Linked DNA regions of Homo sapiens: region 2 is linked to region 1. The links come from fine-mapping of genetic effects on gene expression. A gene starts in region 1. The other region holds a variant in brackets. All regions are shown on one strand. Distances are from middle to middle.

Region 1 (4,373 bases):
CACCCAAGATCCTGGCTGAGTTTGCGCCCTTCCTCCCTGCCCCTCAGGAACCAAGGCTGGCCATCTCGTCTCTCTGGGCCCCTGGACTTCCCGTCTGTGGGCCTGCTTGTGTGCGTGCATCCCTGGGGGGTGGGGAGCTCCAGCTGACTCAGCACCCTGCTTCCTCTGTCCATGTGGGCAGAAAGGGCCAAGGCAGGCCCAGAGCCTGTCCTCCCTCTGTCTGCCTCTTCAGGCCAGCCTCCTTGGTGGGCTCCCCCATGATCCTGGAGGCCTGGGGACTCCCTGAAAGGCCAGGTCCCCTGTCAGCACCCCTCTCACCAGATGGCCCTGGCTGGCAGTTCCTAGACACGGCTGCCTATCTGTCTTCCTTCTGCCTGCCCCCTCCAGGGTGTGCCTAACGCAGGGCACAGAGCCAGGCAAAGGGAGCCTGGCGGGTGGCAGGGAGAGGGGATAGACAGAATCCTCACTCCCTTGCAGCCCTCGTCCCAGGCCTCCTGTCCTGCCAGGAGTGGAGTGCCTGGAGTGGGGCCCTGAGGTTGGGCTCCAAGAGGGCCCTTCGACGGTGTCTACGTAGAGGAGACAGTGGACAGAGTGGGAAGAACCAGGAGGGGGTGGAGCCCAGCCCCTCCTCTGGTCCCACAGGGCCTGAGCCAGTGAGGGCAGGAGCTTGTCCAGGCTCATGGAGTTGGTGCAGGGCTGACCTGAACCCAGAGGCTTGCTTCGGCAAGGAGGAGGCTGTGGGCCCTGCCTTCAGGCGGTTGTGGAAACAATTCTACACATTGCATCACCGGCCCATGTCACCTGCAAGGCCACACACATGTCATCCAGGCAGGCTGTCCACCCCAGCAGCCCACACGGAGTACCCGCCCCTGGCCACAGCCAATTCGAAGGACTTAAGTGTGGCCACTAGACCAGGAGGCACAGCTGTCCCCAGTGTCAACAGATGAGCAAACTGAGGCACAGAGAGGGGATAGGAGGTGCTCACGGAAAGGAGCACCAGCAGAAGGCTCCCCACAGCAGGGCTCAGGCCCTCAATACCCCCAGGGAGCCGAGGCCCAGAGCAGCGGGAAAGTGCTGGGCTGCAGGGAGGCCAGCGTACAGGTGGAAGGGGCTGTCCCCGCCCCCTAACTCCTCCAGTCCCTCTGCCACCCCTGAGATTCCCTGTTGCCCATGAGAGTCTCAGACGCCCGGCTATCAGTCACTCACACTTCAGTGTGAATCAGCGCCAGTGGGCGGCTTTTCTTGCCCTCCGTGAAGCGCGGCCGCTGCAGAGGGAAGTTTGGATTCCGGGAAGGGCGGAGAGCGAGTGCCCGCCGCAGCCTTTGAGTCTTGTGGGGAGGGTCGCGTAAAGGGGCCCCGCCGCGGGGCCAGAGGGGCGCGAGGGGTGCGAAACAGACGCGTCGCACCGCCTCCCACCCCTGAGCCCCCGGCAAGGGACACCCGGCCCCCGCCCCGAAGCCGCGCTCCCTCGGGCACTGCCCGCCGTGCCCAGGCCCCGTGCGTCCTTTGGCAAGGACACGGAGGCCCCGGGGCCCGGGGGAGGCTGCTGCGCACCCGAGACCCCCGACACCCGCCCATACCTGCCGGGACCCTGAGACTCCCCCGAGACCTGCCAAGACCTGCCGGGACCCCTGAGACTCCCCGGAGACTCCCCCGAGACCCCCGAGACCCGCCGAGACCTGTCGGGACCCCGAGACTCCCCCGAGACCCCCGAGACCCGCCGAGAGCCCCCAGACCGCCAAGGCCCGCCGAGCCCCTTCCAGACGCGGAGACCGCCCCCCCGCGAGACCCCCGAGACCCGCCGAGACCCGCCGCCGAGGCTTACCCGCCGAGCGCTCTCCTGGCCCGCGGGCCCTGGGTCGAGGCGGCGGCTTGACTCGGCCGCCAGGCGCTCCCGCCCGCGGGACCCGCCGCCGCCGCAGCTCCGTCCCGCCCGCGCCCGCCCAGTCCGCCCTCCTCCTGGCCCCGCCCCGGCCCCGCCCCTCCCCGGCGGGTCCCGCAATCCTGGAGGTCCGAGCTGGGCGTGGGGCGGGGCCGGTACCTCAGGGTGGGCGGGGAACTGCACGTGGCCTCCGCGGCCCCGGGACGAGGCCCCTGGGGGGCGAAGACTGGCGTTGTCGCGGGCCTAGACGCCGGGTCCACAGTAGGTGCTTAGTTCTCGCCCGTGAGTGAGGTAGCGTGTCTGTCCCTCCTGCGTGTCCCTCCCAGTGACACCCCAGTGCCCAGCGACCCAGGTGGAAAGGGCGCTGTCCACCCCCCCAGCCCCGTGGTCCTGATCCTGGGCGGCCCCACCCCTGCCCCGTGAGTGCGACTTAGGCCCTGGCCAAGACAGGAGCAGGGGAGGTGGGGGAGGGCTTGCTGGGCACCAGGAAACCTTGTCTTTGTTTCCAAATGTCCTCCAGGGTACTTTTCAGGCACTTCCCAGGGGGACCTCGCCTCTTGGACCAGGTCTGGACTCCGGTGGCCCAGAGGTCGTCTTGGGGCTGGGAGGCACAGGAGACCGGGTGCTTTACACTTGGCCTCCTCTGAGGCTCCCTTTCCTCCACCATCACCCTCTCCCTAAGAGTAGGCCCAGATGCCTTGGTGTAAGGGCAGGGGCGAGAAGAGGAGGGGCTTCCTGGGAGGAAATGGCTTCCCTGGGGAGCTCTCAGGGCCAGGTAGGTGGAGGGAGCCGTGGAGAAAGTGAAGAGGCTGGGGAGACCAAGCTGGGCCTGCAGAGCTTGAGGGCGAGCGGACCCCCCACCAGTGCGGGAGTCAACTGCTTGGGGCGTGGGGGGACTCCTCCCCATGAGGAGTGGGGACTGGACCCCAGGTCCCAGAGCCCAGGAAGCTGTGAGTAGAGGAAGGACAGGATCTTGCTGGGAACCCAAGGGAGCTGGGGGTGGGTGGTGGTGACCTGGCCCTGTCCAGGCAGGCGGCCAAGGTCTGACCCTCTGTACTGAGCACAAGAGGCCAGAGTCCAATGACAGGGGCTGAATTGGCTGCTCCAAATCAGGCAGGGGCAGGGGTGTCCAGGGCTGGCCCTGCAGCAGGTGAAGGACTGGGTTTGGGTCCTACAGGTTGAAATACCTGAGGGCCTCCAGGAGACACAGCCAAACCAAGCGGGTTCTCAGGGTTGCAGCTGGACCGAGTGTGGGCCAAGTCACCGTCCACCTGTCCCAGAGCTGCCCAATAATGGGTCCCAAGCCTCAGAAAGGGGATCCCTGGCTGCAATAGCCCTCCTCCCTGCTGGAGAGACACACTTGGGATCAGAGAGGTTAACTGGGGAGGGGAGTAAGTGGGAGGAGTCAGAAAACTAGGTGGCCAGGCCCTGAGCCCAGGCATAGAGGAAGAGCCAGTGCCTACCAGGAAGTGACCAGGACCAAGGCAGGGCCTCTGGAAGGGAAGGGACAAAGCAGGGGATGGCAGAGGCAGGGGAGGATATGGGAGAGTCTTCAGACAACAGGGCCCCTTTTCCCCATCTGTGAAATGGAGGGGGTCCTCTACTGGGGAGGCGGCAGAAGTGGATGGGGCATGACAGCAGGCAGATACTCACTCTACCTGGCCCAGGGCCACCCCTCACACCGGCGCTGGGGCTGTGACTCTACCCACCTACAGCCTAGCTCTCGGGGCTGAACTTAGACCCCAGTGAGGGAGTAGATGGGTGCTGGCTGGCTGGGGTGCTCACTCTCTGGGGTGCCTGCTCACATCCCCACCTGTAAGTGTCCTGGGCCTGGCTCCCCAGGTCTCAACTCTGCTCATCCCAGCATTGGGTAGCCTGCAACTCTTCTGCCCACCCCCCACTCTGGGCTATTTCACATTTTCCTAGCAGGGAGGAAGAGATAGGAACTACAGCCATTGTGGAAGTGGCTGGGCTCAGCCCCATCCGACGTTCAGTGCTGCCACTGTTAGCACCGCATGGGGCTGCGTCACTCCTGTAAGAGGCCACATGCGGAGGGAGCTCCAGGCTGGGCCAGACTGGTCTAAGGCTCCTGACAAAACACTCATGACCTTGGGGCTGTACATCTTGATGTCCCTGATGTCCAGTTCAGCTAAATAAATGCCTGGCCCCACACCAGACCCCGGGGACCCAAGATGATACAAGGAAGTCCCTACCCTTGTGGCTCACGAGAGGAGCAAATGGACAAATGAGCAGATGCCATTGGGTCACAGCAAGTGTCCTGTTCCCAGGGGACCAGCTGGGGAAAGGGGCAGAGACCGGGAGGGGAGTGGAGCAAAGCCAAACGTCGGTGCGGCCCCGCCAGGGCCTGACTACAGGGCAGGGTGTACAGGGCTGGCCTCAGATGCCAAGCTCAGAGTTGACGGAGCAGGGTCACTGCAGACAGTGTGGACGGACCAGGCGCCTAGAGAATGATCACCCAGAAATGCAAAGC
Region 2 (4,373 bases), 43 kb before region 1:
TGTTAGGTTGTGCATTTATGTTTTATTCACTTTTCTGTATGTTGTTTTATTCTGCAGGAAATGAATGAAAAAGGGATTCTGCCTCAGCTCTGAGCCCCTCAGAGTGGGGCCAGGGAAGAAGCAGACGGCAACGCCAGGGCAGCTGTCTGGCAGCCTGGAAGGCCTGCGAAGCTTCCTAGGGGTCCGAAGGAGGGTAGACAGGTAGGGGTCTGCTCTGTACCCATCAAATCTCCCTCCAGTGAGAATGGCTGGAAGATGGCTTAAAAGGGTTCACCACTCACACACACTTCTGAGGTGGTGGGGGTTGTCTGTCAAGCATCTTCACAGGGTCACTGCCCCTCTTCCCCAAGGACAGGCAACCTCCTGGCACTGCCCCCTCAGCAGGCAGTCTAGGTGGAGGGAACAGGGCGTGCAGGCAGAGATAAGGCAGGGGGTGTGTGCGAGGTGCCCAGCGAGGGGCTTGATGCTGCTGGGTCACAGAAACAGAGGTTGTGGCCCTTCCCCCATTCCCCTCGTCTAGAGACAAGCACGGCCCTCCCATGTTCCTGGTGTGACCCTGGTGTCCTAGGCCATCCCTCCAGCGCCTGGATCACCCTCAAAAGCCTCTTCCCTGCTGAGCTTCAATCTGCCTTTCTATGAAATGGCCCCAATAAGCCCTGCCTGCCTCAGGGAACTAAGCCGCAGGTCCCAGGTCCCCCTCTCCCCCAATGCCCACCCTCGCCCATCCTGAGGTGCAGGAAGCACCTCCCTGGGGCTGCGCTGAGCCCCAACCAGCAGGGGAGCTCCGCACAACGTGGCCCAGAAGGATCAGTGGGAACCGAGGTTTCTTCTGGTTCTAAAAACATCTTTTCAAGGCTGGGCGCCGTGGCTCGCGCCTGTAATCCCAGCACTTGGGAGGCCAAGGTGGGCGGATCAGTTGAGGTCAGGAGTTCAAGACCAGCCTGGCCAACATGGTGAAACCCCGGTTCCACTAAAAATACAAAAATTTGGCAGGCAGCTGTAATCCCAGCTACATGGGAGGGTGAGGCAGGAGAATCGATTGAACCCTGGAGATTTGCATTGAGCCGAGATCACGCCAATCCACTCTAGCCTGGGCGACAGAGTGAGACTGTGTCCCAAAAAAAAAAGAAAAAATCTTTTCACAATACAAATCTTTATTAACTGAAGGCACGGGGCTCACCACAATCCTTCGGATGGAACCACAGGAAGAGAAGAAGCATGTTTCACCCTGGGCTGGGGGTGCTTCCCAAAGCCACTGGGGCCCTTTTCCCAAGCCCCAGAACTGAGCCCACCTGAACTCATCTTGAAGGTAGGTATGTCAGTGAGTCCTCCCAAAGCCTCAGTTTCCCTATCTATAAAATGAGGAAGCAGGACTGCCCCTAGGGCAAGGCCTAGGCCTCCTGCCAGCCCACCCTCACAGACCCAGAGGGCAACGCAGGGTGAGGCGGGGCAGTTTCACTCCCCAGTGCTGTGGCCCCCTTGGTTGAGTGAAAGCACCTCCAGAGCCCTAACCCTAGCCCTGGGAGCCAGGCAAGAGACCCCCACAACGACCATCAGAGGTCGTGAGGGGTGGCAGGGAGCCTGGCAGGGAGCCAGGCAGGGGCCAGGGTCTAGGCTCAGAGCAGTGAAGGATAGATAGGGTCACATGCCAGTTAGTGGCAGAGGTGGGACTTGAACCCAGGCCTCTGTGAGACTTGGTTCTCTCACCTGTAAAATGGGTCTACTAGCAGCTGCTTCTCCAAGCAAATGATGTCAAGCACCCAGCTCGGCACCTCACAGATGTGGTCAGTAAATGGTAATCCCAACCCTACCCTTATATGTGGACTAGAACACTTATGGCAAGTCTCGGGAGGTCATGGGAACTCCTCATGGCTCCTTCTTCATGCTGGAGGACCACGGCCTGCCCCATCCCACCCCAACACACTCTTGAAACTGAGGCCCTCGGCCTAGAGCAGCTCACACAGACGTGGACAGCTGTGCTAGCAGGTGCAGAGTCTGGGAGGCGAGGCTGGACCAGGGCCCCAGCTGGGCTTCGGGTAACCACAGGCCTCAACTGTCCAGTTGGCCAGAGGGACCTATCACCTGGCTCTGGGCCCCAGGATGCTTTAGCCACTTGAGCCGGCTCCAGGTGACCGTGTAAGTGA[C/G]ATAAAGCAAAGGTGTCCTGGACTGCACCACTCACTAGCTCAGCACCCCAGGCACCAGGCTGGAAACCACATCTCGCACCCAATTCTCCATTTAAAAATTTTACAGGAAGGGGCCAGGCACAGTGGCTCATGCCTGTAATCCCAGCACTTTGGGAGGCCAAGGTGGGCAGATCACCTGAGGTCAGGAGTTCGAGACCAGCCTGGCCAACATGATAAAATCCCGTCTCTACTAAAAATACAAAAAATTAGCCAGGCGTGGTGGCGGGCGCCTGGAATCCCAGCTACTCGGGAGGCTGAGGCAGGAAAATCGCTTGAACTAGAGAGGCGGAGGTGGCAGTGAGCGGAGATCACGGCATTGCACTCCAGCCTGGGCGACAGGGTGAGACTACATCTCAAAAACAAAAAACTAAAATAATAAAATTTTACAGGAAGAGAAACTATGGCCACAGTGGGGAGTGGCATGACTCCCTAAGCAAGTTCAGGTCAGACAGGGCAAAGAATTCTGACTGCAGGGAGGAGGAATGGCTGGTTTTCCAGAGATAGATCAGAACAACAGAAGCTCCCTGTGCTCCAGCCTCGGCTGTGGTGCACTGACCTCTCACCCCAGGCAGGCTGAAGAGGAAACCCCTGCAGAGGTGGCCTTGGACACCTGGTTCCTGGAAGCAGCTGGCTGCCGTCATCTGCAGGGCCTGCAGTTCCACCGCACCCTATGGCCCCCTGGGGTCACAGCCTCCCACATCCGCTAACCAGCCTCATCACTTGTTTCCGCCAGCAAACCACAGGTCCCCAGAACACACCCAGGGGAAGGGGGCTGCAGGACCTTCTCCCCCAGTCAGTCACTGTCAGTGGGCCCAAGTGCTGACCTCAGTTTAGGTTTCCCTGACATAAGGTGCTAAGAAAAATCACAAGGATTCTAGGGTCCCTGCCAGCCCCTACCTCCCTGAGTCTGTTTCATTAAAAATCCAGCCTGGAAGGTGTGCCAGGGAGAGTGACCTGCTGGAACTCCATGGCAGAAAGTAAGGGGATGGATTGGGGCTGGGCCTGAGCCAGGTATTGCCTGGAAGACTTGGGCATCTGGGTACCACCGTCCCTACGCACCCTTGGCCTGCTTAGGGTCCACTGTTCCCATCCCATCGTAGCTGTTACTTCCTCCAAAAAATCTTCCGGGAGCCCCCAGTCCCTGCACACCCAGCTGCCCTGGACACTGTGCCGTAAGCACCTCATACCCAGCTGTCCCCAGACTGGGCTGTGAACTCAGCCAGGCCAGAGGCCCCTGTCTGGAATGGGACCAGGCATGCAGGAGGTACCCAATAACTGCTCGCTAATGCAGGGAATGAAGCAGCTGTAGCTGCAGGGCCTTCTAGCTCTGTAGCCCGCTCAGTGTATGCAAGTTCTGGAACGGGGACAGCCACTCAGGAGGTACCCAGTAACCAGGCACTAATGCAGGGAATGAAGCAGCTGTAGCTGCAGGGCCTTCTAGCTCTGCAGCAGCACTGCCCTGGCCTGACCTGAGGCAGCAGAACTGGTGAGTGGGGTGTGGGCTCCCAGCCCAGACTGCCCAAGTTTGGGTCCTGATCTGTTACTCGCTGTGCACCCTGGGGAAGTCACTCAGTGACCTGCACCCTGGAAGACAAGACAACCAACTGTTGGGGTTCCCGGGTACTGCTGCGGTCACCACTTAGACATCAGCATGGGCACCCAGTAAGCTGGTAATCCCCTCCTTCCCAATCAAGCCCCAGCCACCAAGGCAAAGCTCACTGCTGCTTTATTGGAGGCAACAGCCCCTACTGGAGCCTGTGTCTTAGCGTTCCTGGGGGTCCCAGGGCCAGCCCCGGCCCCCACCCAGCTGCCCTGGCCCTGCCTGGCTCCCAGCCCACTTAGGGGTGAGTGTGATGGGGGGACCAGTGTTCCTGTCCTTGGAGCCCAGGCACAGCTTGGTCCTGGGTTTCTGGGATTGGGACAGGGCAAGTTAGTGTGGGGCAACAGAGTCCCTTCGTCCTCTGGAGCCTGGCGCCTGGTTCAGCCCTAGAACCCAACCTGCTGGATGAGACTGGCTGGGTCCTACGAGATGTCCATCACAGAGGCCCTAGGCAAGCACAGCCTTGCTCCTGCTCACCCTCCCATGTGGGCCCATGTCCGTCTGTGTGGCCTGGGGTCAGGGCCCCTGTGACTGCCTTGGCCTGGCAGCCACATGGACTGCCATCACCTAGGCCCAGTGTAGCCGTAGGG

What was found. PIP is the estimated chance that this variant, and not a neighbour inherited with it, causes the effect. A credible set is the group of variants that fine-mapping cannot tell apart.
Region 2: its variant is the best candidate, but not a certain one, in a credible set for the expression of SH3BP2 in whole blood (TOPMed, PIP 0.61).

What each region holds. Positions count from the first base shown.
Region 1 is chr4:2,790,591-2,794,963 of GRCh38, reverse strand. SH3BP2 (SH3 domain binding protein 2) reads right to left here and starts at 1,879. Exons shown (of 13, transcript NM_001122681.2): 1 at 1,826-1,879. RefSeq lists a silencer at 1,812-2,161.
Region 2 is chr4:2,833,808-2,838,180 of GRCh38, reverse strand. SH3BP2 (SH3 domain binding protein 2) reads right to left here. Exons shown (of 13, transcript NM_001122681.2): 13 at 1-4,373. The coding sequence ends at 4,347. Among named protein-coding and RNA genes, the nearest start is that of ADD1, 7.8 kb to the left of the region's middle. RefSeq lists enhancers at 1-27, 1-977, 2,643-2,692, 2,953-3,032. The variant C/G (reference allele first, on the strand shown) is at 2,145.